4 separate regions of the Homo sapiens genome follow, and regions 1, 2 and 4 are each linked to region 3. The links come from fine-mapping of genetic effects on gene expression. A gene starts in region 3. Each other region holds a variant in brackets. All regions are shown on one strand. Distances are from middle to middle.

Region 1 (6,704 bases), 48 kb after region 3:
TAAGACACACGCTTCCTGCCCGCGCATCTTGCCCTGTGGCCTCAGGACAGCCGGTCCGAGGGAGGGCAGGTGCAGCAGCCACGTCCCAGTCGCTGCGGCCTGGCTTCTCCAGGTGCAGCTCGCCCTCCTTGCACCTGCAGCGCGGAAGGCAGAGCCAAAAGGCGCCCCCTGGGCTCCCGGAGCTCTGAGCCACTTCAGGAGTTCGGGCATGTGGGGTTTTGTCTCCGGTTTTAGTCTGGCCATGTTTGTTGGTTCCAATTCCTATGCTCTGTTACCTGAACCTGTTTGATTCTTTTGATTTTCTTCTTTCTGAAAAAGACTTTTCACGGTTTCCTATTCTGCCTTTCTTCCGTATGCCTCTCAACGGGACGAGCAGCTGAAATTAAAAAGATAGTAGCAGGTACGAACCCAAAGGAGTGTGCTGAAGTCAAGAGCCTGTCTGGCGGGCCACAGACCTGAGCGCAGCCCCTCGGTGGCACACCTGCCCCAGGGACAGCCCTGCATGGGGACACGTGTCAGGCCCCAGACCTGCGCACGCACCCAGGCTCAGCCACAGCCCCTCAGGCAGGGTCCCGATGCCCACTCTGCTCCCTTGTGTTACAAATGCCGTGGTCCTTCTCAGCCCTGCTGTGGCCTTGCCTGTCATCAGAGGGCAGCTGGTCTCTGCAAGCGTCTGAGTGCAGGCTGCTTAGGGCACCAGCCAAGGGGGGACGCTGCCTGCACTGCTGCCTCATGGGCCACCTTGACAGATCTGCATGGGTCTCAACAGGTGGGTGGCTTCGTGCCTTCTGCAGCCCAGTCCCCGTGGTCTTGGTGGGCTCTGGCTGTAGGAACAGCCTGTCTCCTCCACGGTGCTTCACATGTGTCCCACGTGGCTTCTGGCTGGACGTGGCATGGCTCCTTCCCCCCTCCCCCTCTTTTTTCCTCCTCTTCCTCTTCCTTCCTCCCTCCTCTTCCCTCCTCCCTCCTTCTCCCTCCTCTTCTCTCCTCCCTCCTCTTCCCTCCTCCCTCCTCTTCCCTCCCTCCTTCTCCCTCCCTCCTTCTCCCTCCTCTTCCCTCCCTCCTTCATCCTCCTCTTCCCTCCCTCCTGCTCCTCTTCCCTCCCTCCTCCTCCTCTTCCCTCCTTCCTCCTCTTCCCTCCTTCCTCCTCTTCCCTCCTTCCTCCTCTTCCCTCCTTCCTCCTCTTCCCTCCTTCCTCCTCCTCCCTCCTCCTCTTCCCCCACCTTCCTTCTCCCTCCTCCTCTTTCTCCCTCCCTCCTCCCCCTCCCCCTCCTCCCTTCTGTCTCCTCTTTCCTCCTCTTCCCAGCACCAGGCCCAGGGCTAGTCCTTTGAGGAGCAAGTGAGGCCATGGTGCCTGCTCTTTCGGAACCCTGCCCTGGAGTATGGGGAGGTGTCACCAGCACATGGGATCTCGTCCTTGTACCATTGACATTCCGTGGTTGAGCCCCGCAGCACCCAGGGCGAGCACGTGGCCCACGGCCGAGGTGGCTGGTCTGCCACCTGCACTTCCTCCTGTGAAAGGAGGTGTGCGGGAGACCTGCTCTGCCCGTCATGGCCTTTCCCTGCAGGCAGGCGTCTGGCCCGGGGTGCTAGCAGGGAGCAGGGGCTGCTGCTTGAGGGCCGGCCCCATGGCCCTGATCTCCTTGGAGCCAGCCCTGTCCCCCACATCCAGGGGTCTGGGCGAGGCCCAGGGCTGCGTTCCTGGGAGAATGCTGACCCTGCACTTCTCTGGCTGGTCATGGTGTCACCACTGGGGAGGCTGGGCCGGCACGTCAGTCTATGCCTGGCATGCAGGGCCGTCCCTGAGATATTTGCTCTCACCACTCACAAAACATCCTTCTCGCTCCTGGATTGAACTTTTATGCCTCACAGCCCTAACCCATCATTTTTCAAAGCTTCCTATAATAATTTGAAAACATCTTGTAAAAATGACATAAGTCACAGCCGCTTGCGGCAAATAACTGGCCAGTGTTGAAGCGAGTCAGACCGGGTGCTCCTGCACCAAGTGTGTGCCAGCCGTAACCCGGGCAGGCCTGTCCTCTGGCCCTTGCTGCAGGCACCAGCTCTTAACACGGGGTGCACTGGGGCTCCCCATCACGCAGGACCTGCCCAGAATTTCCACAGTGGATGGTGTTCAGGAGCGGTGGTTAGGATGGCTGGCGGGGGCCTCACTGACGCTCCAGCTCCCATGCTCCCCTTAGAAGACAGCTTTTGGCCGGGTGCGGTGGCTCATGCCTGTAATCCCAGCACTTTGCGAGGCTGAGGTGTGCGAATCACGAGGTCAGGAGATCAAGACCATCCTGGCTAACACGGTGAAACCCCATCTCTACTAAAAATACAAAACATTAGCCGGGCGCGGTGGCGGGCGTCTGTAGTCCCAGCTACTCGGGAGGCTGAGGCAGAAGAATGGCGTGAACCCGGGAGGCGGAGCTTGCAGTGAGCTGAGATCGCGCCACTGCACTCCAGCCTGGGTGACAGAGTGAGACTCCCGTCTCAAAAAAAAAAAAAAAAAAAAAAAAGACAGCTTTTGTTTGTTTTTAAAATTCTCATCTCGGAGGAAACTTTCTAGAAGTACCAATATTCTTTTCAAAACATAGCTTACAGTTTTTCTTTTCTTTTTTTCTTTTTTGAGACAGGGTCTTGCTCTGTTGCCCAGGCTGGAGTGCAGTGGTGTGATCACGGCTCACTGCAGCCTCGACCTCCTGGGCTCAAATGATCCTCTGGCCTCTGCCCCCCGAGTAGCTGGGAGTACAGACGCCTCTCACCATACCCTGATCATTTTTATTTTTTTGTTTTTTTTGTTTTTGTGGAGATGGGGGTCTTGCTATGTTTCCCAGGCTGGTCTCTAACTCCTGGGCTCAAGCGATCTGCCTGCCTCCGCCTCCCAAATTGCTGGGATTACAGGCGTGAGCCGCCGTGCCCAGGCTTATTTTCTTACGTGCTTGTCCTAGAACAACTGAATGTGTAAAGTGGAAAAAACAAAAACAAAACCCCACCCAGCCCAGATAACCATCTCTGACATTCTGGCACATTCCTTTTGACTGTTGCTCTGGACACTCACTTCCATGGGCAACGAGCAGGCTTGCTGGGGTCCTGCCGGGTGCGCCTGGGGCACAGCCAGTGGGAGAACTGATGCGGCACAGTGGCTGGCTGTGCGGGAGAGGCCATCCCGGGTGGGCTTCCAGGGGCAGTCAGGGCGCAGCCTCTCCCGGGCCCTCAGGCCTGCGTGCATCACTGAGCTGTCCGGGCTTCACGGTCACAGTCATGATGGGTGTCACCAGTGGCCAGTGTTCGGGCACACTCCCTGCAGGTGACCTGTGCGTTGCCTTGCTGTGGGCCGCGCCGTCCCTGGCCCAGCACGGTGCATGAGCAGCCCGGGCACTCTGACTGTGTGCTTTCCAAACCCAGAAGCTGGCAGGGCGGAGATGCTGGACCACGCCGTCCTGCTTCAGGTGATCAAAGAACAGCAGGTGCAGCAAAAGCGCTTGCTGGACCAGCAGGAGAAGCTGCTGGCGGTGATCGAGGAGCAGCACAAGGAGATCCACCAGCAGAGGCAGGAGGACGAGGAGGATAAACCCAGGCAGGGTAGGCCGGGCTGGCGGATGGAGTGGGGTGGGGCCAGGCAGGGGGTCTCCTGCTGTCCTCATGCGGCTGGGTCTGAGGCTCGGTGGCCTCTAGACCTGAGCGTGAGTCTGGTTTTGGTTCCCA[A/G]TGCTGTTGTTGCTGGTTCTTCTGAGCCCCTCCACTGGCAGCCTGTGTACAGTGCTGTGGCTAAATTGATGACCGACTTCATTTGCAGTGGAGGTGCATCAAGAGCCCGGGGCAGCGGTGCCCAGAGGCCAGGAGGCCCCTGAAGGCAAGGCCAGGGAGACGGTGGAGAATCTGCCTCCCCTGCCTTTGGACCCTGTCCTCAGAGCTCCTGGGGGCCGCCCTGCTCCATCCCAGGACCTTAACCAGCGCTCCCTGGAGCACTCTGAGGGGCCTGTGGGCAGAGACCCTGCTGGCCCTCCTGACGGCGGCCCTGACACAGAGCCTCGGGCAGCCCAGGCCAAGCTGAGAGATGGCCAGAAGGATGCCGCCCCCAGGGCAGCTGGCACTGTGAAGGAGCTCCCCAAGGGCCCGGAGCAGGTGCCCGTGCCAGACCCCGCCAGGGAAGCCGGGGGCCCAGAGGAGCGCCTCGCAGAGGAATTCCCTGGGCAAAGTCAGGACGTTACTGGCGGTTCCCAAGACAGGAAAAAACCTGGGAAGGAGGTGGCAGCCACTGGCACCAGCATTCTGAAGGAAGCCAACTGGCTCGTGGCAGGGCCAGGAGCAGAGACGGGGGACCCTCGCATGAAGCCCAAGCAAGTGAGCCGAGACCTGGGCCTTGCAGCGGACCTGCCCGGTGGGGCGGAAGGAGCAGCTGCACAGCCCCAGGCTGTGTTACGCCAGCCGGAACTGCGGGTCATCTCTGATGGCGAGCAGGGTGGACAGCAGGGCCACCGGCTGGACCATGGCGGTCACCTGGAGATGAGAAAGGCCCGCGGGGGGGACCATGTGCCTGTGTCCCACGAGCAGCCGAGAGGCGGGGAGGACGCTGCTGTCCAGGAGCCCAGGCAGAGGCCAGAGCCAGAGCTGGGGCTCAAACGAGCTGTCCCGGGGGGCCAGAGGCCGGACAATGCCAAGCCCAACCGGGACCTGAAACTGCAGGCTGGCTCCGACCTCCGGAGGCGACGGCGGGACCTTGGCCCTCATGCAGAGGGTCAGCTGGCCCCGAGGGATGGGGTCATCATTGGCCTTAACCCCCTGCCTGATGTCCAGGTGAACGACCTCCGTGGCGCCCTGGATGCCCAGCTCCGCCAGGCTGCGGGGGGAGCTCTGCAGGTGGTCCACAGCCGGCAGCTTAGACAGGCGCCTGGGCCTCCAGAGGAGTCCTAGCACCTGCTGGCCATGAGGGCCACGCCAGCCACTGCCCTCCTCGGCCAGCAGCAGGTCTGTCTCAGCCGCATCCCAGCCAAACTCTGGAGGTCACACTCGCCTCTCCCCAGGGTTTCATGTCTGAGGCCCTCACCAAGTGTGAGTGACAGTATAAAAGATTCACTGTGGCATCGTTTCCAGAATGTTCTTGCTGTCGTTCTGTTGCAGCTCTTAGTCTGAGGTCCTCTGACCTCTAGACTCTGAGCTCACTCCAGCCTGTGAGGAGAAACGGCCTCCGCTGCGAGCTGGCTGGTGCACTCCCAGGCTCAGGCTGGGGAGCTGCTGCGTCTGTGGTCAGGCCTCCTGCTCCTGCCAGGGAGCACGCGTGGTCTTCGGGTTGAGCTCGGCCGTGCGTGGAGGTGCGCATGGCTGCTCATGGTCCCAACACAGGCTACTGTGAGAGCCAGCATCCAACCCCACGCTTGCAGTGACTCAGAATGATAATTATTATGACTGTTTATCGATGCTTCCCACAGTGTGGTAGAAAGTCTTGAATAAACACTTTTGCCTTCACCCAGCCTCGGTGGATGCTGTTTGGTGTCCAGGAAGCACAGGGAGCAGGGGCCAGACAAGCCGGGTGTCCAGGGGCACTGGCCGGTGCCGCCCTTTGCACTCCTCATGGTTGGCCCAGCCCTCCATTGTCTGTGTTTTTCAAAATCCAATTGTGGCTTTTTTTAAAAAGTAAAAAACACCACTGATAACCTGATTAGTGAAGTTGGTCCTGGGGGAGTGACTGAAAGGAAAGCCTGAGGCCGGCTCAGGATTCCAGATGTGTAAAGCAGAGGCCAGAGGTCATGAGGGAACGGCGCCATGACCTGAGCGTCGCAGTGACTGGACACTAGACGCAGCACAGCCCCAGAGAGACCCTGTGAGCAGGCAGAGCCGCCTGGTGCCAGGAGGTGGTCCAGCCCCCAGGGCCAGGCTGACGGGCGTGCTGCCTCGTGACCAGGACACGCTCCACAGCCCTCTCACCTGGCGGGAGAGAGGAGGTGCTGCTGTGTCCACAGCATCCGAGTCTGCTTTGGCTCGTCCTCTGGGGAGCTTGCGCCCCAACCCTGCCACGAAACCCTGCCACGAAGGGCAGAGGACCAGGGCCTGGGTCTGGGGGAGGCCCGTGTTGGCGAAGGGTCCCTGCATGGAGGGCCGGCCTCAGCCTCTGGTGGTGTCTTCCTGCACCTTTTGATATCCTTTTGGCTCTTTATTATAGTTTCTTCCCTTGAAGGATGTCACTGGGCAGCCTGAAGACTGGAAATTTTTTTTCTTTTGAGACGGAGTCTCGCTCTGTCACCCAGGCTGGAGTGCAGTGGTGTGATCTCGGCTCACTGCAAGCTCCGCCTCCCGGGTTCACGCCATTCTCCTGCCTCAGCCTCCCGAGTAGCTGGGACTACAGGCGCCCGCCACCACGCCCGGCTAATTTTTTTTTCCGTATTTTTAGTAGAGACTGGGTTTCACCATGTTGGTCAGGCTGGTCTCGAACTCCTGACCTTGTGATCCACCCGCCTCAGCCTACCAAAGTGCTAGGATTGCAGACTTGAGCCACTGCACCTGGCCTGAAGACTGGAAATTAACTAGAGGGAAGCTTCTGGAGGCTGAGTGGTGACTCCTGCCGAGCCTTGGGGGCTGGGAGGGGGCCGGGAGGAGGCTGGGAGGGGGTTGCGGGGCCAGGGGCTGGGAGGGGGCTGGGAGGAGGCTGGGAGGGGGCTGTGGGGCCAGGGGCACCACTCAGCATTTGGGAGGTGCCCCGCCAAGGG
Region 2 (7,331 bases), 130 kb after region 3:
CGTGATGCCCCTGGGCCCCACGGCTCCCGGTTTGCATGGAAATTAACCCTTTCCCCGCCCCGAGCCCAGCAGCAGAAGCAGCCGGACCCCCTGGCGGCCCCAGATCTCGGAGGGGCAGGCCCTGGGCCCCAGCACAAACCGGCCTCCGCCTGTGGGCTGGCGTCCCCCGCGTGGTCGTGACTCCGTGGCTGCCTCCAGGGCACAGGTAACTGGGGCACGGAGGGCCTGCGTGGGCCCCTGGTGTCCAGGAGAGTTGGTCTCAGACTAAGGGCCCTTGGGGGTGTGGGGGGTGTCAGCCAGCTGGGGTTCAGGCTTTCCATGGCCTCTCCTGGGTCCGGGGCCCTGGCGTGGGAGGCTTCTTCCCAGGCTGGGAGCGATTCTCAGAGCCCTGCCCAGCCACCAGCAGCCGGCGGGGGATGTGGGGGGAGCAGGGGCCAGTCCACATTACAGAGCCCAGTGGGCAGAGGCTCAGAAGAGAGGGGCCTTGGTGGGTGCCCAGATCCCCTGACAGTGGGGGCCCGAGGTGACGCTGTCAAGCTGGCTGCAGGGGACCTGAGGCCAGGCCTCTTACCCCGTATGGCCAGTGCACCGGGCAGGGCGAGATTACCCATGGCTGCCTGGCCTCCTGGCTGTGGTGGACAGCTGGGATAGGCAGAGGGGGCTGGGGACAGCTGGAAGCCCCATCTGTCACCAGGAAGCAGTGGGCTTTCTAAAACCTCTGCTTCTCCAGATCCGGCCCCTGCTTGGCCTGAGTGGGAGATAATCCCCCTGCCCTGTGCCATCCATGGCCCCAGGGCCAAGTCCCACCCACACGTCACTGGGGCTCTGGCACCAGGCTGAGCCAGCCCAAACAAAGCCTGTTTGCATGTGACGTGATCTCCTGTGTCTCCTTCCCTGGAGCAGGGCCCAGTGCACGCAGCCTGGCAGGGAGGCACGGGGGTCCCCGGGGCAGATCTCGGTCTGAAGGCATTTGCTCCCTGGAGGAAGGGAGCTGGTGGGAGGTCTGTCTGCTGGGCTTAGGGCTGTGGGTGTCACTTGCTCAGAAATGACTTCCTGTAGTGACCCCTGGGGCTCGGAAGTCCCTGTGGGGTGGGCAGGTGAAGGCTCAGAGCCCAACAGCCACGGCAACAGCTGTAATGTCTCCCCGGCCCAAGGGCAGGGGGTGGAGGAGGCTTGGGGCAGGTCCTCATCACATCTCCATGCCAGGCGTGGCCCACGGTGCTTGGTCCTTTCTGCCCCCAGAACAGAGAGGACCCTCGGCCCATACCCTGCCTCGGGGCCCAGCCTTGTCCTTGGCCATGAGAGGCCCTTTCCCCCGCCTTCGAGCAGCACCGGCTCTGCCCTTCTCTGGGTAAACAGCTGTGATCTGAATAATTCTAATGTGTCCGTTTAATGACTTAGAGGAAAAGAAGTTGTTGGAGGCAAGGGGCGTCTCTCCTCTGCAAGATGCTGGGCCAGAGCTGCAGGCACCTGCTGGGCTCTGGGGCCCACCTACCAGGAGGGGCTGCCCAAGGTGCTGGTGCTGGTGAGGAAGGAGACCCTCCTTCGGATTAAGGGGCTGGGTCTAGGCTCTGCACCAGCCCCCATGAGAGGGTTAGGGAGGAGAGAGGGGTCTCCTGCCCTCCCGCTAAACTTAGCCCAGCCTTCCAAGCCTGGCTGTCCTGTGCTGCAGTCCCTCTGCCTGGCCTTGCCTCTGTGAACCTCGGTTTTCCCATCTATGACATGGGCCGACAGTACCTGTGGCAGGCCCGGGTGGGCTCAGTGCTTGGTGAGCACTTGGCTGTCTGTGCTGGAGTGGTGGTGCTGGGACAGAGACCCCCAGGGCCCAAGCTTCCTACAGCATGTGGCTGGCTCCTTGCCATCCCCGAATTGGAGCGAGCTGGTTCCTTCTGAGGCTGCTTGTGTCTGTGGGGGGGCACCCAGAGGGGAGGGGCCCACGCTTGTGGCTCTGGCAGTTGGCTTGTGTGTCACTCAGCATCTGGGGCAGTGCTAGCACCTGACATGGGGGTCTCACCTCAGTTGCCAGGCCCTGCCCCGCTGCCGGGCCGGCTCCTTGTTCATCGCAGGAACTGGTGCCAGTCTCCATAGAGGTGACGGCAGTTGTGGTGGTACAGGGGGCAGAGACGCCCGATAGTGCAGGGCCTGAGAGTGGAGGCTGTGGGCACAGACTGTGGGCTGCCTGGGCCCCTGACCTTCCGCACCAGGCAGATGCGGGCAGGGCAGGGGGCACCCGGCCCAGGAGCCTGCTTGAGTGCCAGGAAGAGCCGCCTCCTCTGGAGCCCAGCTCTTCCCCCATCTCCCTGACACTCGGGAGCGTGGCTGGGGGATTTCTTGGCAGCTGCAGCCTTCCAGCCTCTGTGCTGTGTGGCCTCGGACTACTCACCCAGCCTCTCTGAGATCCGTTCTGCACATGTGAAATCTTGCTCTGGGGAGACTAGTGTGGGCATGGCGGCCAGGAAAAGCAGGGTGATGGGGGTGACACATGGGCAGGATGGCCGGGTCCAGGCTGGCAGGAAGGGGGTGGCATGGCCTTGAGCGAGCAGAGGTCACCCCTTCTACCTGAGTGCCCCAAGGGAGGGGGCTGGCCTTGTTGCTCACCCTCCCCAGCCTTCACCTTCCCTGGTGCGGCCTCAGGGCGTCATGATTTCTAGTCGTCCTGAGCCCTGGGGCCTGGAGCTGTCCTAGGCTGGAAGTGGGCATGGGGACACCGCCTCGCTCCGGCTTCTGGAGAGGCGCGCTCAGCCTGAGGGTGGGGGTCAAATGCTCTGCACAGTTAGGAGCAGGGGTTTGCCCTGGGGCCACCTCTGGTTTGCTGAGGGGCCCTTCTGTGACTGGCTCTCCATGCCTGTTTTGTCATCTGTAAGGTGGGAATGGCTGTGATGGCCAGGTCTGAAGGGACAGCAGTGGTGCACTGAGCCAAGGGTGGGTACCTGGGCAGTGCCTACCATGGCTGATCCCTGACGCAGAGGTGTCACTGTTGACCAGTGGGCAGGGCTTGGAGTTTGTGGAAGTTCTCGGAACACGTGGCAGCCTGGATTTGCCACCCCCCAACCCCCGCCTCTCCCCTGTCCCTCAGCTCACGCCCTGTCTCCTGCCCAAGGTCTCTCCCTGTGTCTGACCTGAACCAGGCGCCATGGGGGGTTCCTGGGAGAAGTGCCTGTGCCTGGCCACGGTGCTCGCTCTATCAGCATTCATGTGAACCGGACACCTGGCACAGGGCTGGGCAGGCTGGGCCTCAGGATGAGCCTATTGATGGGGAGAGGGCAGAGGAGGCAGCGAGCCCCGGGCCAGGCATGGCCTCAGTGGCAGGGGCAGGGCTGGACTCAGGGGCTCAAGGGGCTGAGCAGGAGGCCATGGGCCTGGGTGGTCCCCGGGAGTCCTCCCCTTGGAAGGTGCCCCACAGCTGACACTGCCCGGGCACCAGGTGTGGAGTCTGTTTGAAGGCAGCTGCTGCTTCAGTCTCCCAGACCACTCAGGCTCAGGCAGCAAGCACCTGCCCTGGGAGGAGTTACCTGTCCTCCTCTCGCCCCCGGGGTCTCAGAGGATGCCCCAGAGGAAGCTGTGCCCATGAGTTCGGCCCATCCCCCTACTTCCTCTCAGGTCTCAGGTCTCCCAC[C/T]GAGACCCTTAGGCTGCAGGTGTGCAGGCCGAGGTGGGTTCTTGGAGAGGGTCCCATGGGAAGGCTGTGTGGACAGTGGCCTTGGGGAGCGGTCACACGCAGGCCGTGGGCCCTGGGCACGGGTCCGGCTCCCACCTACCAGCATGGGTGCGGGCACTCGGGGAGGGTGTGGGTGTCGGCACTCGGGGAGGGGGTGGGTGTGAGGCCCCACACTCCCAGGCATGGGTCAGGGAGAACATTTCTCTCATTCCGGCACATTCTCCAGGAGGCCAGGCTGTGCGCTTCCCTCCATGGGGTGGTGCAGTGACCCAGAGGACCGGCCCCTGCAGTGGCCACCCTGTGGGCCCGAGTGCCCCAGAGCTGGCTGGGGTGGGCTGGCAGCTGTTGTGTTGTGTGGAACATGCTGGAAGGTCTGCCTTGTGCCACCCTGCATGTTTGGGATGCATCGACTCCCCGCCATGCCCTCTGCCTCCCCGGCTCCCAACCCTGACCCTGCCTCACGGGAGAGTTCTGGCGTGGGCTGGTGTCCTGGGCCGGGCCCTGCTGTGTGACCATGGACAGGTCTCATAACTTCTCTGTGTCTGTTTCACCTCTGAAATGGGGTCCGGCAGCACCCACGCTCCAGGAGGTTCCTGAGAGAACCCGGGGGCCGTCACGGCAGCTCCAGGGCTGGTGACTGTTCACGTCCTCTCTGCACTCACCCACCACCCCGGCCGCCTGGGAACTGTGCTCCTGCCTGTGCCCCCTGGAGGCATGTGCTGAGTGGAATATGTCACCCCAAACCCATGCCCGCCCAGTACCTCAGAATGGGGCCTTATTTAGAACTAGGGTCTTTGCAGCTGTAATCAAGTTAAGATGAGGTCGGACCGGAGTAGGGTGGGCCCTGAATCCAATGACTGGGGCCTGATAGAAAGAGGAGGAGTGGCGTGCACGCGGGAAGGAGGCCACGTGCAGAGGCTGGAGTGATGCAGGCCCAGGAGCACCTGGGGCCGCTGTGCCGGAGAGGCAGGAAGGATCCCGCCAGCGCCTCGAGGGAGTGGCCCTGCCCATGCCGTGCTTTCCTCCTCCACTGTCCAGAACTGTGAGCACATCCATTCCTTGCCGTCTGGGCCAGCAGCCCGTGGTCCCAGGACACACATCTGGGGGTCTCCTTGGGTCTGAGGGGTGAGCACAGCTGCCTCGAGACATCAGGAGCCTCTGACTCCATCCTGAGAAGAGTTATCCTTGGAAGAAAATGAGGCCACGTGCTAGCCCCCAGCCTCAGAACCCTCCAGGGCGCTTGGCTGGGTGTGAGGAGGAAGCAGGCCGGGGCCACAGCTGCGTGGCATCCTCTGCCTCCTCCTCGGTCCACGGGGGAGGCAGAGGGTCCACGGAGCACCTCGGTGTCTCCTCGGATGTGGTGTCGGCGGTGAGCCTGGGACCACGCTGTTCTGCTGTCACCGGCCTCCTGTCTCCAGCTCACGGGGTTCTTCCGGGGTAGGCTTTTCTCGAGGGCCACCTGACCCCTCTGTGCACGCCAGGGCAAGGCTGACGGGAGGCCCACTCGACCACTCCTGGGTGGGAGCCTGATGCAAAGCACCTGCCGTGGGGCCTCGGCCTGCGGTCCTGTCCCTGGTGGCACAGATCCAGGGGCCCAGGAGCCCGTGTCCGTGGTGGGGAGACTCCCGTCCCCTCCGCAGGCCACAGTGACAGGAGGGCTTTGGCGTCTGGGCCCCCCTGGGCCTTGCCCTGCCTTTCACAGAGGAACAAGCGCCCGCGGGACCGGCGGCCTTGGCCTCCCCGCCCCCCCGCAGAGGAAGCCGGCAGAGGAAATGAGGGCAGCGGACGGGGCCGGAGCCAGTTCCCAGGCACCTCTGAGAACTGTCACGGGAGGCGGCGTCCTCGCCGGGTCTCCAGCCTCCCTCCGCAGGGACCGGGGCCTGGGGTCAGGGGGCTGCGGCCTTGGGTGGGGCTGGGGCGGGCTGGGGTCCTCCCGGGGGTCACTCTGGGGTTACAGCCACGGTCAGAGCCACGCGGGAGCGACACCCAGAGCCTGGTACGTGGGGGTTTCTGGGAGGATGCGGGCTGTGCTCCCACTGCCAGCCTGGGGGTGGGGGCCGTGGCCAGGAGACTCCTGCTCCTGCAGGGACCCTGCCAGCGGAGGTGGCCGTGCCAGAGCAGGCAGGGCCTCTGCAGTGGGCGATTCTGGGCAGCCGGGGCCACCTGCCCCAGGGGGAGTGAGGGGCAGGATGCTACCCCGAGCCAGGGCTGCTCAAGGCCACCTCTCACGGCGGGGCGTGGCCAGCCTATCCCCATCTCACCCTCGGGGAGGGTGTGGGGTCCCTGCTGCTGAGGGACAGGAATCTGGCTCTACCCACCTGCCAGGGTCCCCAGGAAGACCCCTCCCTGTCCCTGGTATCGGGTAGCCCTGGCCAGCTGGCCTGGGGGAGCCAGGCTGGGGGGCAGGGGAGCTGGTCCGGGACCAGGGCTCTGCCGAGTCACCTCTGTGCCAAGGCCACGGTTTGAGGCTGTGGCTTGAGGCCGTTGTGGGATGGAGCTGGGGATGCCGTCCTCGGTGTGAGGATCCTCCGACGAGGCCCTGGTGCTCGGTGGGGCCCCTCTGGCTTCCCTTCTGCTCTGCTTCTGGGAATTCTTAGTGACTCTGAACAAGGGGCCTTGGGTTCCCTTGGTACTTGGTCCTGCGGATTCTGCAGCCGGTGGGGCTTGCTTAGGGTTTGGGCTCCGCTGTGAGGCCCACGTGGAATTTCCTCGAACCCCCTGCGAAAAAGGCGTGTGGCTTCCTAGTGACCACGGCACACACAAGTGCGCTCTGACCTCCGGGGTGCGGGTCCGGGGCTTCCCCGCATTGGATTTACCCGCGCGGCAGCACGCCCAGCCCCCGAGAGTCCCCGCCACTGCCCCCAGGACTGCTACCTGGCCGGTCACTCGCAGGCCGCCGGCGCCCTCCCAGCTGCCCCATGTTGGGGATCTCGCTCGCTCTCTGTGAATGATGCTCAGTTGTGGGCTGTCCCGTGGGCTGCTATCGTGGACGCTGGAGTGAGGGCCCCTTTACTGAGAGGTAACTCACATACCAAGGACCCACCTGTGTCAAATGAGCAGCTGGGGCTTTCCTGCATTCCCAAGAGTGCAGCCATGGCACGGCTAGCTGTGGAGCATCCCTGCCCCTGACAGAAGCCCCATGCCCGAGGGCATCACTCCCCATCCCCTGCCCCCAGCCCTGGCAGCCACCGATCTGTCTCGGTCTCTGGGCCCCTGGCCTGGACGTCTGTCTCATAAGCAGGGTCCTGTGGCCTTGTCCTCTTTGGGCCCTGAGGTTTTCGCTGTGTGTATAGCGGCCCCAGGGATCAGGGGTGCTGGTGTGTGACTGTGGGGCACTGTCCAGGGAGCTTCCAGGAGGTGGTGCCATTTTGCCCCCATCCCCATGGACGAACGCCTCCATGGCTTCCCCTCCCGCCAGTGCTGGCTGCTGTTTTTATAACGCCCGGGCTCGTGAGCATGTGGGGGCTGCCCATGGTGGTCTTGTCTGCCTTTCTGTGGCGAAAGATGTCAGGAGCCTTTCCAGGTCCTGCCCAGCTCTTCTGAGCCCCTCAAGCGAGTGCCCATTGGAGGTATTTTTTGGTGGTTTGTACCTGGTGTCGGGCAGCCCTGGCCAGCTGGCCTGTGGGAGCCAGGCTCGGGGCAGTGGGCAGGTCCTGGACACAAGGCCTCAGGTCTG
Region 3 (7,331 bases):
ACCATTAGGCCCGCAAAGCAAAAAATATTTACTGTCTGACTCTTAATAGAAAGTTTGCCAACCTTTGCTGTAAACCAGGAAGAGCTCTTATAGCTACTTTGAAGAGCAATTTGGCAAGATCTAGTAAAGTCATTTAGGTATGCATACGCATACTCTGCAGTTCCACTTGTAGGTGTTTACCCTAGAGAGACTTGAACAAACACACGTTCAGGAGACAAATCTGTTCACTGGATCACTGTCTCTGAGGCAAGTGACTGGACACAACTCAGGTGCCCTCGGCAGGAGAATGGATGCGGATCTGGGCTATTTAAGTAACGGAGTTCCACAGAGCAGCAAGAATGAGACTCAGAGCACATGCAACATGATGGCAATTCTTGTGAACAAAGTTGAACTGGCCGGGTGTGGTGGCTCATGCCTGTAATCCCAGCTCTCAGGGAGGCAGAGGCAGGAAGACGGCTTGAGCCCAGGAGTTCGAGACCTGCCTGGGCAATACAGTGAGACCCCGTTCTCCACAAAAAGGAAAAAAAAAAGACAAAAAAAGAAATTTAAGTGTGACAAAGTTGAGTGAAAAAGAAAGTTGCAGAATAGCACATATATGTAATTCAATTCTTACAATAGTCCAAAATGCAAAGGTGCCCCATCCCAATACACTACTGAACTAGGTAGGCTACAGCTTTGGGTTCATGAAACAGAGTCCAAAATCATGGTGAGCGCAAGGAGCAGGTTTGTCTCTCCCTCCCAGAGCAGCTGGGAGGAGGTAGTCGTGGATGGGCATGGTGGCTTGGCTCCATGAGTTGTCCAGGGATCCAGGATCCTTCTAGCTTGGTGCTCCACTCTGCCACGGTATCACCCTTGTCTGCACTGTCCGAGATGGCTTCCTACCATCGTGTCTAGGTTCCAAACAGCATGATGAAGGAGCGGCAGACCCCCTCCTAAGAAATGACCTAGAAGTTTCTCCTGTCATTTCTGCTTCTTATTGTCCAAAACTTGGTCACATAGCCAGCCCTACCTGCAAGGGACACTGGCAAGTGTATTCTTTTTTTTTTTTTTTGAGACGGAGTCTCACTCTGTCGCCAGGCTGGAGTGCTGTGGCGCGATCTCGGCTCACTGCAACCTCCGACTCCCTGGTTCAAGCGATTCTCCTGCCTCAGCCTCCTGAGTGGCTGGGATTACAGGCACACACCATCACGCCCGGCTAATTTTTGTATTTTTAGTAGACAGAGTTTCACCATATTGGCCAGGATGGTCTCGATCTCCTGACCTCGTGATCCACCCACCTTGGCCTCCCAAAGTGCTGGGATTACAGGCGTGTGCCACCGCGCCCAGTCTTTTATTTATTTTTTTGAGACAAAGTCTTGCCCTGTTGCCCAGGCTGGAGTGCAATGGCACGCTCTTGGCTCACGGCAACCTCTGCCTCCCGGGTTCAAGCGATTCTCCTGGCTCAGCCTCCCAAGAACCTGGGATTACAGGTGCGCGCCACCACGCCTGGCTAATTTTTTGTATCTTTAGCAGAGATGGGGTTTCACCATGTTTGCCAGGCTGGCCTCAAATTCCTGACCTCGTGATCTGCCTGCCTCGGCCTCTCAAAGTGCTGGGATTACAGGTGTGAGCCGCCATGCTCGGCTGGAAGTGTATTTTTTATCCTAGGCAGTCATACGTGCAGGCCAATTCCTATTAATTTGGAAAATGGAATAAACGAATATTAAGAGACAGAGAGTCAGCTGGGCGCAGTGGCTCACGCCTGTAATCCCAGCACTTTGGGAGGCCGAGGTGAGCAGATCGATTGAACCCAGGAGTTTGAGACCAGCCTGGACAACATGACAAAATCCCATCTCTACAAAAAAAGTGAAAATTAGCTGGGCATGGTGGCACACACCTGTAGTTTCAGCTACTGAGGGCCTGAAGTGGGAGGATCACTTTAGCCCAGGAGGGAAAGGCTGAAGCAAGCTGAGATTGTGCCACTGCACTCCAGACTGGGTGACAGAGTGAGACTCTGTCTCAAAAAAAAAAAAAAAAGAGACAAATAGTCTTCCCCATAATTGTTTAGGGATATATCCATATATGGTAAACCTTTAAAGAAAAGTAATGAATTGATGGAATCTGGATTGTGATGTCTCAGGATAGCAGGGAAGAGGGGAAGAAGGTGCTGGAACTGGGGAGGAACTGAAAGGGAGGATCTAAGTCTTCGGTAATATTTTGTTCTTAAAGCTCAATAGCGGGTCCATGGTATTTGCTATTTGTGAAAACATACATGTAAATTGCCCAGCCTACCTCGCATGCATAACATTTGATGAAAATTACATAATAAAAAGGAGGTTATGGAATGTGTATGCCATTTCATTTATATAAAAGTAAATGGGCTGGGTGCGGTGGCTCATGCCTGTAATACCAGCACTTTGGGAGGCCGAGGTGGGCGGATCACCTGAGGTCGGGAGTTTGAGGCAAGCCTGGCCACCATGGTGAAACCTGGTCTCTACTAAAAATACAAAAATTAGCCGGGTGTGGTGGCGGGAGCCTGTAATTCCAGCTACTTGGGAGGCTGAGGCATGAGAATAGCTTGAACCTGGGAGGTGGAGGTTGCAGTGAGCCAAGATCACACCACTGCATATACAGCCTGGGCGACAGAGCAAGACTCTGACTGAAGAAAAAAAAAAAAAAGAACGCAGGCATTTGTTATTTTGCCTGCGTATTTAATTAGTCTTTACCCAGGCATTTCCTCCTGTTCTCCTGAAGGTGGGGCACAGCCTTACTTGGTGGCTGCACTGCCAGTGCCTGAGGAACGGGCCTCTGTTCTAAGACACCTGGTCCTGCAGGTGCTGCAGACACGGCCTCCTTTCCTCCGCCGTCCTCCCCCAGCAGCCTGGAATCACTTGCTGCTTCCCAGCCATTCGGTCTACGCGCTCATTCATTAGACTCAGAGTGAGCAGCTAGGTGCCAGGAATCCACAGATCTATCGGGACCCTTCTCTGTTCTCTCCTCTCCCCGGTCTCCATTTCTACCCGAGGAATTCTCATTTGTCCTTCAAGCTCCAGCCTAGAAGCCACCTCCTTCTGGAAGCCCTCCCGGGTTTCCCTGTTCATGTAAGCCTCCACCTCTCCTGTCCCCTCCAGGAATGTCCCTTGCTCTTTTCGTGTGAAAAGGTGAAGTTCAACATTGCCACTGATCTGGGCGCAGTTCGGCAGGGCACCGCCTCCCCTTGGAGCTGTGTGGCCTTAGCGGAGTGGCCGAGCCTCTCTGTGCCCAGCGTTTCATTCCTACCTCCTAGGTGCTAATTCCTCACAACAGACTATTTTTCGGCTGAGGCAGTCAGGGCCCCCGCCCCCGTGCCCTGGCGCCAAGCACTCGCCCCAGAATCGGTCCTGGGAATAAAGGTCAAAAAGGAACCCTTAAACCCGCTCCTCCCCGGAAGGCACAGCGCCTCCCCTTCTCTCCAGCCCGCGACTGCCCATCCAAACCGAGGCCTCGCGGGGCGAGTCCCTTGTCCTCCAGCTCGTTGAACTGGGGCCCCGGGCACAGGTCGGCTGGACCAGCTTGGCGAACCGGACAGCTGCGAGACCCTCAGGTGCCCACCGGCCCAGTTTCCGCCCGCCCCTCCGGGCCCGCCTCTCATTGGCTCGCGTCCCACCAAACCCTACCCCCTGGCCGTCACTTCCGGGCAACGGAGCCCGTGGAAGGCGGAAGTGTGAGCGCCGCGGCGGCAGCTGAGTTGGGCTGAGGTGTCCCTAGCTGGCTCTGCGGCTCTTCCGGGTCTGGGCTCGGAGATTCACAGGCGGCCCGCGAGGCCGAGCGAGGGACGCATGGCCCTGAGGCGGCCGCAGGGCTTGGCGGGGTCCGGAGGTTGACCTCGCCCCCGCAGCCGGCCTTCGAGGCTGCCTCCTCCAGGCAGCCTCTGGGGCCCGCGCCCGCGCCTGCTCAGGCTCCCGTGTTCAGGCTGCCCATCCCCTCCCCACCGGCGTCCCGGACGTTGGGACCTGTGACCGTGGCCTCGGGCTGGGCTTCCAAAGCCGGCCGCAGCCCGGCGACCCCCGAGGCCTCTCGCCCCGGGCCCCTAGACCTCTCACTATGACCGCGGCCGCCGCCTCCAACTGGGGGCTGATCACGAACATCGTGAACAGCATCGTAGGGGTCAGTGTCCTCACCATGCCCTTCTGCTTCAAACAGGTGAGTCCGGTGGGCCCGGAGATCACCGCCCTCGCCTCCCCCGCAGAGGGGGCGTCTGGCTGGGTCGTCCTGGTTAAAGTTCCCGCCGGGGCAGGGCTTCGCTGGGCGGGTGCAGGCGGCCGCGGGCGGGGCGACCCTCTGGGTCCCGGCGCAGTTCCCGTAGAGAATCCGTGGATGAGAAGCGCACGGCGTTGGCCCTGGCAGCCCTTGTCAGCCCGGGCCGGAAAGTTCCCCACACTCAAAAACTCGATACCGAAGCAAAGTGTAACAAAGCAAAATGATCCTCCAGAATCGGAAGGGAACGGTGGGACTCCGTATTTTTACATTTTATCGTGTTTTTAAAAACTCTGACCCAACTGCACCTGTCTTCAGAAGCACACAACTCACCACTCCCAGGCTTCGACACTAGATAGGGACCTTGGTTGCAAGGTGATTAAAAACATCCACCAGGTTATACACCTAAGATCTGCGTTTCACAAAAACCGCACATTTGGCAGGGGGTGGTGGCTCACACCTGTAATCCCAGCACTTTGGGAGGCCGAGGCGAGTGGATCACCTGAGGTCAGGAGTTCGAGAACTGCCTGACCAACATGCTGAAACCCCATCTCTACTGAAAATACAAAAATTAGCCGGGGGTGGTGGCACATGCCTGTAATCCCAGATACTTGGGAGGCTGAGACAGGAGAATAGCTTGAACCTGGGAGGCGAAGGTTTCAATGAGCCGAAGGTTGCAGTGAGCCGAGATCACGCCATTGCACTCCAGCCTGGGCGACAGAGGGAGACTCCGTCTCAAAAACAAAAACAAAAAACTGCACATTTGATCTAATGTGTGCAGACGTTACCACAGTTGGAAAAAATCTCAAATACAAAAAGTTTAGCGTCATTCCAGCATTGAATAACACATGAAAGAAAATGGCCATTTCTAAGTGTCATCTGTTTAATCTACAATAAACAAGCATTTAGTGCTTTGGAAAAGAAAGGCTGACTGAAACGTTACCAAGTAGGTAGAAAAATGAAAACAACATGTATATTTTGAAACAAAGTGGCACCAGTAGTTTAATTTTAGATTAGCTTAGCAAACACTGTGTTTTTCATATTCATTATCTTTGGAATAAAAATATCCAAAAAATTTTTTCAGCCTGGGCAACATAGTAAGACCCCGTCTCTACAAAAAAAATTAAAAGTTAGCTGGGCATGGTGGTGCATACCTGTAGTCTCAGCTGCTCGGGAGGCTGAGGCAGAAGGATCACTTGAGCCCAGGAGTTTGAGATTACAGTGAGCTATGATTGCACCACTGCACTCCAGCCTGGGCAACACAACAGTACCCCATCTCTAAAAAAAAAACAACTTTTTTTTGATCAAGGAATTTTCAAACCCTCCCGTGCAGCCCTCCAGGCTGTTGTGTCTGAGTTGTTTGCCTGATATGGTTGGTGAGCCTGTCAGGGGAAGACAGGGCTACATGCCTCCAGAGCCCCCCGGGCAGCATCTGGTCTGGGCGTGGAGAATCCCAGCTTTCTGCCAGCCACCTCTGGGTGTTTCTGGACTGACTCCATGTCCCAGTGTCCACTGTGACTTGCCTGGCAGCAGAACTGCATTCTGGCATGTGGAGCAGTAGCTGGTCCTTCTCCTGCAAGTCAAAGACTGTTATCTTTGTTTTTTCAAGACGGAGTCTCGCTCTGTCACCCAGGCTGGAGTGCAGTGGTGCAGTCTCGGCTCACTGCAACCTCTGCCTCCAGGGTTCGAGTGATTCTCCTGCCTCAGCCTCCCAAGTAGCTGGGATTACAGGCATGTGCCACCACGCCGGCTAATTTATTTATTTATTTATTTATTTATTTGTATTTAGTAGAGACAGGGTTTCCCCATGTTGGTCAGGCTGGTCTCGAACTCCTGATCTCAGGTGATCCACCCACCTCGGCCTCCCAAAGTGCTAGGATTACAGGCGTGAGCCACCGTGCCTGGCCCCAAATGCTGTCATCTTTGATGCCTGTCGGTGAAGTGCCACCGTGGAAGGGGCTCTGGTTTAGACACCTGTGAAAGTACATCTTAGGGCCCAGACGATCCAGCTATCTCGAGCCTTGGACCACCTGCCATGTGGTGGACATTAGGCCCCTGCCAGAGCATGTGCTGATTAGCCGGGCATCTGCACAGACCTGTCAGGAAGTGAAGGACTAGAGACGTCCTTCTGAGTCCTGAGGGCTGCCCAGAGGGAGGCCCAGTTGCTCTGATCTGGCCGCAGCGTCTCCTCCACGGCAGCCTTCTTGGACTGGGGCGCAGGGAGACGCCAGCAGGCGATTTGGGGATGTGTGTGTTTAGTGTTTGGCAGCCTTGGCATTGAAAAACTTTGGATTAGTGTTTTTTTTTTTGTTTTAGTAGTTTTGATATATTTATATATATACATAGCTGGGCGTGTTGGCTCACGCCTGTAATCCCAGCACTTTTGGAGGCTGAGGAGGGTGGATCACGAGGTCAGGAGTTCAAGACCAGCCTGGCCAAGATGATAAAACCCCATCTCTACTAAAAATACAGAAATTAGCTGTGCGCGATGTCAGGCGCCTGTAGTCCCAGCTACTAGGGAGTCTGAGGCAAGAGAATCGCTTGAACCCGGGAGTGGAGCTTGCAGTGAGCCAAGATCGCGCCACTGCACTCCAGCCTGGGCAACAGAGTGAGACTCTGTCTCAAACAAACAAAAATATATATCTATATCTATATCTAGATAGATATAGATATAGATCTATATAGATTATATATATAATAAACATTGAAGTTTGACATACAAAAATGTGTACACACTTCTTTAGATGTGCTGTTGATGAATTTTCATATGACGAGCAAACCCGTGTGACTAGCTCCCAAATTAAGGAGCGTACTCTGTGGCCGTGGCGGCCTACCCGGGGCACACTGCTGACCCCTAGTGTGCCACGGTGGTGCTGCCTGGTTTGAACTGAGGTGGGTGGGTCCTGCTGTGCAGGTGTCTAGTGCGAGTGTCTGGCTTGCGTTCTGGTGTCCGCTGCACCGCCATGCGTGTCTGTGTGTAGTTTACCCCTGTGAGGCATTTACGGTGTCTCCTATTGGGAGCTCTTGTGATGCCCTGAGGAGTTGGACAGGCGTTGGCAGGGGGTGGTTTCTGCTGGGTGCGTGCCTGTGTGGAGTGGCCGGGCCCCAGGGTGCGT
Region 4 (7,331 bases), 34 kb before region 3:
TCTGCAACTGACACTCAAAAGATTCAGCAGTTTTACATAAAGGGGGAGCAAGAAGTAAGAGAGGAAGCCAAGGTGACACAATATTTTTTAAAAGGGCTTCTGGGTACAAATCAGTGTACGTACAGAAATACATTTTATTTGTGCAGATGTGCAGAGACACTTTCGGCTGGCATGGTGGTTCATGCCTGTAATTCTAGCACTTTGGGAAGCCAGGGCAGGAGGATTGCTTGAGCCCAGGCTGGACAACATAGTGAGACCCCATCTCTGCAAAAAACACAAAAATTAGCCAGGCGTGGTGGTGTGTGCCTGTAGACCCAGCTACTTGGGAAGCCGAGGATCGCTTGAGTCCAGGAGGTCGAAGCTGCAGTGAGCCTTATTCTCACCACTGCCCTGCAGCCTGGGCAACAGAGCAAGACTCTCTCAAATCAATCAATCAATAAATTTGACTGCAGGTGCCAGAAGTGGACTCTGACTAACTGAAGCCGGGAGCAGGTATTTGGTTGGAGCTTGCAGCAGGGAGGGCAGGGGGAAGGCGCTGTTCAGGCCCCAACAGCAGCGGCTCGGGAGTGGCCCCAGCACAAGCCCAGTGTCCCTCGGCTCAGCATTCAAATTCCAGGAAAAGAGTCCCGATGGTCCGGCTTGGTCTAGGGCTGTGGCCCGTGGCAGGTCCCCAAAACCACACCTGCCGCTCCAGTGCCCCCCAAGGCTGCATGACCTTCGTGTGGACAGGATCATGGAACACATGACCTCACCCAAGCCTCCCAACCATGCCGTGATCCAGCACTGTTAGAATCATCCCCGTTTCACAGAGCAGAGTTGAAGTGTTGGGTGTTTAAACGCTGTGCCCAGGGCTGTCCAGCCAGGGAGTGGAATCTGGTCCTGGCCCAGAAGGCAGCAGCCCCACCCAGGCCACCTGCTCCAGGTCCCCGGGCTCCACAGACTTTCACATCTACTGCAGAGGCGCAAGGACGTTCCCCAGCATCAAAGCCCTCAGACCCTGGTGCCAGCCACGTCGTCACAGAACTTGTAGACCAGAGGATGCCCTGCGGATAGAGGGCCTGCCCTGGGCCTGCGCCAGGCTGGGCATATTGCTGAGGTCCCTGCTCTGTGCTGGCAAAATCCAGACCTCAGGAGAGGGGCAGGCAGGCTCTGAGAGGTTGCGGCTGCCCAGGGCCTGCAGCTGGGAGGAGCGGAGACAGACCCCCCCTCCCCTGGGACACAGTTGCTCTGCACCACACAGCTCCGCTCCTGGCGTCCCCTGGCTTTGCCGGGGGCGGCCGACCCAGCTGGCCAGGCCCCCTCCCCCTGCCCCACAGGTGGCCCTGAGCTGCTGAGGATAAGGCATGCTGGGCGATCTCTGCTGATTAGAGTCGCCCTCCGCTGTGGGCTAGGGGCCCCTATTTTGCTCCTGAGATCCCAGTCGGCCCATAGAAGCCCTCACAGGCTCTCCCGGGGGTCCAAGGAGTCCCAGGAGGCCCCCGTTCACCCCGGGTTTGCCTTCTCCCTCCTGTAATTTGCTTTTCATATGCGTGAAGGGGAACTCAGCAGGAGCAGAAGATGATGTGGCCTCGTGGGAGCGTGGGAGAGCTGGGACGGGGTGGTGGGGAGGAGCGGGGACCCAGGGACAGGGGCTCTGGGTCCAACCACCAGGCCTTTTGCACTTCGTGCTCTCTGTAGCCTCAGCTTCCCCCGAGGGTCAGGAACTCCAGGCAGGGGCATGGGGCAGCTCAGAAACCTTCCTGAGCCCCTTCCCCTGGCAAGAGGCAAACCAAGCAGGTGAGGGCTGGGCCCTGTTCTCAGAGCTGGCATCCCAGCCCTGGCCAGATCCAGGCTGAGGGCGGCCCAGCCCCCTGTTCTGCCTGGTGCAGAGGACACGGCTTCCCTGGCCGGAGCCCCCGCCCCCTCCTCTCCTTTCTTGGCGTCTGCCCCTGGGCGTGCCCTACCATTAAGCCCTTGTTGGTTCCACAAGCTGGGGGCACCCCTTCCTCCCTTCCTCCGGGCAGCCATTGGCAATGGCTGGCGGCTCGGGACAGGGCCCGTATTCTCTGAAAATGATGGCTGGGCTGGAACCCGGGATCGATTCTCAGACCTGCGTCATGTGGAGTCCCGGATGCTTGTTACGAATTCGGACCCTGGCCTGTGCCTGCTCCCTGGTACCTCTGAACAGGGCTTTCTGCCCTGGGGGTGTGAAGAGGGCCAAGTCCACTCCCCGACTGGGGTCACGCCTGCCTCCTGTCAGGACTGTGAACACTGCGTCCCCATCAGCTCAAAGAATACGCATGGGGACAAGCCTGGGGGGCCGTCTGAGAGTCCCCCAACCCTGGATCCCCACGGCAGCCCCCACTGTTGGGTTTTTCAGTGGCTGGTGTGCCCTGGGCTGGTCACCTCTGCATTTTGCTCTGCTGGGAGTTTGCTCCTGGCCCTCCAACAGCGCCTCCTCTGTGAGGAGGAACTCCTGTTCCCGTGGCTCTGCTGGCTCTGGAGGCTGGAGTTCCCGTGCTGGGCCCTCCTGGGCGGGTTCTCTCTTGCTGCCGCCAGTACCCTGCCCCTCTCGTCCTCCTGGGTAGCCTGGGAGGAATGGCAGAAGAAAGCAGTGAAGCCAGGTAGCAGTAGCCCGGCCACCCCACCAGGCTCTGCTGTAGGCTGGGCTCTCAAGGCAGCTGCTCCAGGAGGGGCCCCCTAGGAAGGGACTGCCACACTCCTGGGAGCGTTCCTGGCCCCCTCCAGTGCAAATGACCCTGGGCCCCAAGGCTCCGAACACCCGCCCCTCTGCTCCAGGTAAGAGGGAGATGTGGGTGGTGCCTGGACTGTTGTGTGCTTAGGTGGGGGAGTGGAGCCTTCAGGTCTCAGGAACCCACAAATGCTTGTTGAGCTGATGAACCCTGCAGAGATGAGAAGCTTAGGCCCAGAGAGCTGATGCCACCTGCCTGGGGCCACAAAGTCCACTGGGCAGAGGAGGGTGGGAACCCCAGTCCTTGGCCCCACTGTCAAAGCGGGTGCTTCCCAGGGAGAGCAGAGCCTGGGGTCAGTGCGGAGGACACTGGATCCCCAGTTCCGGGCTGGGGAGAGGCAGCTGGTGTTTCAGTGCTGCAGAGAGGGCCAGGCCGGCCTCAGACACCCTCCCCGAGGCCTGTGTGGGGGTGGAGGGCGGCCACACCTGTCCCACTGCAGGCCCTGGGGTGGGGTTTCCTGTCTGTGCTGGAGCCCGGTCAGGTTTCTCACTTCGCCCGGGGCAGGGGTGCAGGGCAGATGGCCCAGCCAGTCATGAGTCACCAGCCCAGCCTGCCGGCCTGCCTGACAAACGGGAAAGACCCGGCGGGTAGGAGCTGGGCTGGGAGCATCCTAGCTGGGCCTGGGCCAGCCCCTTCCTGGGAGAGGAGGGAAGCTGCCTCAGGCCTCCGGGGAGAAGCTCCCACCTGGCCCGGACCCTCCTCCCTCCTCCCTCCTCTGGCGGGGTGAGTGGGCTGAGGGCCTGCTGGGCCCCTGCATGGTGGGAAAG[T/G]TTGGGGAGGGGAGGGGTTTCCAAGCCTCAGCCGTCCAGGCCTACGCATCCCAGATCTCGCTCGCTCCACAGCGCTGTGCCATGTCATGGGCTTCTTTTTTCCTGGTCCGAAGTGTTAGTATCTGCGAAATTGCAGGCTTGATGTGTTGGCTTTATTTTTCTAACACACACTAAAATAAATCATGCGTGTTTTACAGTGTGTTGGGGCCATCTGTGGGTCACGGACGGCCCTTCTGGCCTGGGGGCTGGCCAGCTCTTTCTGTAGGGTCCAAAGAGAGCTTGAGTCCCCAGCTGGGGTAACCCAGGCAGGGATTTTCCCGACATGTAGCCCCAGAGCAGGGAGGCTGTGGCTTTGAGGAGAGGCGGAGTCCTCAGCCCAGCCTTCCTCAGGCCTCCAGAAGCAGCCTCGCCAGGCAGCCTGGGTCTGCCACCCTGCAGACAGTGTGCAGGGCAAGGGAAAAAGGACAGGCCTCTCTCCAGCCCCACACCTGCCCACGCCTCTCCTGGAATTGCCCCCATCAGAGCCCCTTGGGGGCTCATTTTCAAGTCCCCTGCCCCTACTCCGGGGACCCGGGTAGCCCTGGGCTAGCCTCTCCTCCCTGGGCCCCGCCGTCCTCATACACACCTTGTCCTTAAGCTGCCTTGGCTCCCAGGGGTGCTCAGTGTGGCCATGGCCGACAGCCCTGGACTCTTACAAATCAAGGGGGAGACACGCGAGGCCCCGCCCCCACCCTGGGCCCGGAGCCAGGTGTCCCTCAGGAAAGGGCTGCTGCAGGTCTGCAGGAAAGTGCAGAGGGTGCCCTGCGGGAGAGACGCCCACACTGCTGCCCAGCACGGGCTGCTGAGAGCCTGCGAACTCAGGCTCTGGGGCACACAGAATGCCCCCACCCCCTGCCTGTCCACCTCTTGCCCAGTCCCTCTTGCGGGCACTGTGTCCTCCCTATGGGGCTGTGAGCCCTGCCCTTGCCAGCCCTGCTCCTGCCCTGGAGACCCTGGGGGTGATTCAGGGGAGAAGATGCATGGGGTGAAGGGCGAGGCTCCCGGGCGGGTGAGGGTGGGCTGGGATCAGCCCCACTGCGAAATGGACCCCGGGGCTGATGCACCTGTCTTCCCCAGGCAAGCCTGTGGCGAGTGGGGGCTGGCTCAGTTGAACCCTCACTGCATACCAGGGCTGGGCCTCAGCTGCCACCATGATCGCAACTAGCTCTGAGAGGTAGAGGCTGCTCCGTCCCCAGATAAAGATGAGGAAACTGAGGCGCAGAGTGAGGAGGCCTCCTGCTCAGATCCTGCAGCTGGGGAGGAGCAGAACTGAGGCCCTCCAGGCAGCCCCGGCTGCTTCGGTCTGCCTGCCAGGCTGTGTCCAGGCCATGTGGTCTTAGAGGCCACCCCTCTCACCTGAGCCGTTCTTGGGTGTTCCTCACCCAACAGCCCCCCTACCCCGGCCCAGGAATAGATACAAAAATCTTTCTTTTCCCTCAAAGGTTAAAATCTGGATTGAAAAAGCAAGTGGGGTTTGTTGGCCTCTCAAAAAGTGGAGCATAGGCCGGGTGCGGTGGCTCACGCCTGTAACGCCAGCACTTTGGGAGGTCAAGGTGGGCGGATCACCTGAGGTCAGAAGTTTGAGACCAGCCTGGCCAACATGGTGAAACCCCATCTCCACTAAAAAGACAAAAGTTAGCCAGGCGTGGTGGTGAACACCTGTAATCCCAGCTACTTGGGAGGCTGAGGCAGGAGAATCGCTTGAACCCGGGAGGTGGAGGTTGCAGGGAGCCAAGATCGCACCACTGCACTCCAGCCTGGGTGAGAGAGCAAGACTCTGTCTCAAGAAAAGAAGAAAAGAAAAAAGAAAAGAAAAGAAAAGAAAAAAAGCAGAGCACAGGATTCCCACGTGACTCAACGATGCCACTCCGGCTACAGACCCCAGAGAACTGAAGGCAGCAGCTGGTGCAGACGAGAGCGCCAGAGTCCACAGCAGCCCTGGTCACGGCCAGCAGGAGGTGGAAGCACCCAAGTGCCGTCGACCCATGAGTGGACAGACACACAAGTTGTGGTCTAGCCACGTGTGGAACAGGGTTCAGCCTGGAAAAGGAAGGAAATCTGACACCCGCTACTGCGTGGATGGACCTCAGGGACGTTATGCTAACTGAGGAATTCCAGACAGAAAGGGACGTGGTGTGTGCTTCCACTTCTGTGCAACTTCTAGAACAGGCCATTCACAAAGACAGACAGAAGATTTGGGGTCACCAGGGACTGGCGGGGGGGCGGAGGGTGGGAGGGATATTGCTTAATGAGTACAGAGTTTCTGTTTGGGATGATGAAATGTTCTGGAACTATTAATAGAGGTGACAGTTGCACAACATCGTGAATGGAGTTGATGCCATTGAATTACACACTTGAAGATGGGTCCGTTGGGGCCGGGCGAGGTGGCTCATGCCTATAATCCCAGCACTTTGGGAGGCTGAGGCAGGTGGATCACCTGAGGTCAGGAGTTCGAGACCAATTTCACCAACATGGTGAAACCCCGCCTCTACTAGAAATACAAAAAATTAGCTGGGGGTGGTGGCGCATGCCTGTAATCCCAGCTGCTTGGGAGGCTGAGGCAGGAGAATCGCTTGAACCTGGGAAGCAGAAGTTGTGGTGAGCCGAGATTGCACCATTGCACTCCAGCCTGGGTGACAGAGTGAGACTCTCCAAAAAAACAAAAAAACCACAACAGAAATTCGTTTTCTTGTGGCTCTAGAGGCCTGAAGCCTGAGGCTTGTATCTACTAAAAATACAAAAATTAGCTGGGTGTGGTGGTGCACGCCTGTAGTCCCAGCTACTCGGGAGGCTGAGGCAGGAGAATCGCTTGAACCCGGGAGGCAGAGGTTGCAATGAGCCGAGATCACACCACTGCACTCTAGCCTGGGTGACAGAGTGAGACTCTGTCTCAAAAAAAAAAAAAAAAGGAGGGGGGACCCTGTGCAAGGCCAGGAGGGGCCCACCTGCGTCATCTGGCAACCCATCCCTTCTGAGGGCCAGACCCGTTGGCAGCAGGGATAACAGGCAATGCCTCTGTACTTTGCCTTTTTTCTTTTTAAAAGACAGAGTCTTGCTCTGTTGCTCAAGCTGGAGTACAATGGCACAATCGTGGCTCACTGTAGCCTCAAACTGCCAGGCTCAAGTGATCCTCCCATCTCAGCCTCCCAAGTAGCTGGGACCACAGGCATGTGTCACCACACATAGCTAATGTTTTTATTTTTAGTAGAGACGGGAGTCTTGCTGTGTTGCCCAGGCTGGTCTCAAACTCCTGGGCTCGAGCAATCTTCGCACCTCAGCCTCCCAAAGCGCTGGGATTACAGGCATGAGCCATGGTGCCTGGCCCACTTTGCTTCTCATTCAAAGGTTGGATGGGGAAGGTGAAATCGTCAGGGCCAGGAAGGCTGGGATCAGCTGTGGTCTCTTCCTGCTCCCTCCTCTGCCTGCTCTCGGGGCTGCTAGGCAGAGCTGGCTGTGGTCGGTCAGGCAGCATCCTTCCTCTGGCCTGCATCTTCCACTTTTTCCCACCGCCAGAAACCTGTTGGAGGTGGACCCCGGCGTCGGGCAGGTGCTGGTGGGCGTGGCCTCCCCTGTGGCTGAGAATGAAGCCTTGCCTGGTTCGTGGTTTGGGTTTTGGGGGCCTCAGAGTGTGAGCCTGAGCCAGAACCTGGTCCTCTCACCACTGGCCCTGCAACCCTCCTGGCTGCTGAGTGCACGCATCGCCCTTCAGTATCTGTGCCGGGAATAACATCTGCACACGTGTCACGAGACACACAGGCTCACGGTGGCACTCAGGGATGCCCAGGCATTGCAA

What was found. PIP is the estimated chance that this variant, and not a neighbour inherited with it, causes the effect.
Region 1: its variant is fine-mapped to the expression of SLC38A10 in whole blood (TOPMed, PIP 0.95).
Region 2: its variant is fine-mapped to the expression of SLC38A10 in blood mononuclear cells (TOPMed, PIP 0.90).
Region 4: its variant is fine-mapped to the expression of SLC38A10 in whole blood (TOPMed, PIP above 0.99).

What each region holds. Positions count from the first base shown.
Region 1 is chr17:81,243,766-81,250,469 of GRCh38, reverse strand. It overlaps SLC38A10 (solute carrier family 38 member 10), which reads left to right. Exons shown (of 16, transcript NM_001037984.3): 15 at 3,409-3,585; 16 at 3,797-5,659. The coding sequence ends at 4,914. Among named protein-coding and RNA genes, the nearest start is that of NDUFAF8, 7.8 kb to the right of the region's middle. RefSeq lists enhancers at 5,218-5,307, 5,518-5,567, 5,668-5,787. The variant A/G (reference allele first, on the strand shown) is at 3,709.
Region 2 is chr17:81,158,556-81,165,886 of GRCh38, reverse strand. The region is part of intron 1 of AATK (apoptosis associated tyrosine kinase); the gene reads left to right. It overlaps PVALEF (parvalbumin like EF-hand containing), which reads right to left and starts at 380. Exons shown (of 7, transcript NM_001354639.2): 1 at 140-380. RefSeq lists enhancers at 125-868, 869-1,612. The variant C/T (reference allele first, on the strand shown) is at 3,617.
Region 3 is chr17:81,291,653-81,298,983 of GRCh38, reverse strand. SLC38A10 (solute carrier family 38 member 10) reads left to right here and starts at 3,677. Exons shown (of 16, transcript NM_001037984.3): 1 at 3,677-4,161. The coding sequence starts at 4,063. LOC124904082 (a long non-coding RNA gene) reads right to left here and starts at 1,078. Exons shown (of 2, transcript XR_007065941.1): 1 at 63-1,078. RefSeq lists an enhancer at 3,012-3,101 and silencers at 3,762-4,031, 4,132-4,201.
Region 4 is chr17:81,325,591-81,332,921 of GRCh38, reverse strand. It overlaps TMEM105 (TMEM105 long non-coding RNA), which reads left to right and starts at 2,248. Exons shown (of 3, transcript NR_165247.1): 1 at 2,248-2,778. RefSeq lists enhancers at 481-1,051, 1,052-1,622, 2,766-3,335, 3,336-3,907, 3,908-4,479. The variant T/G (reference allele first, on the strand shown) is at 3,500.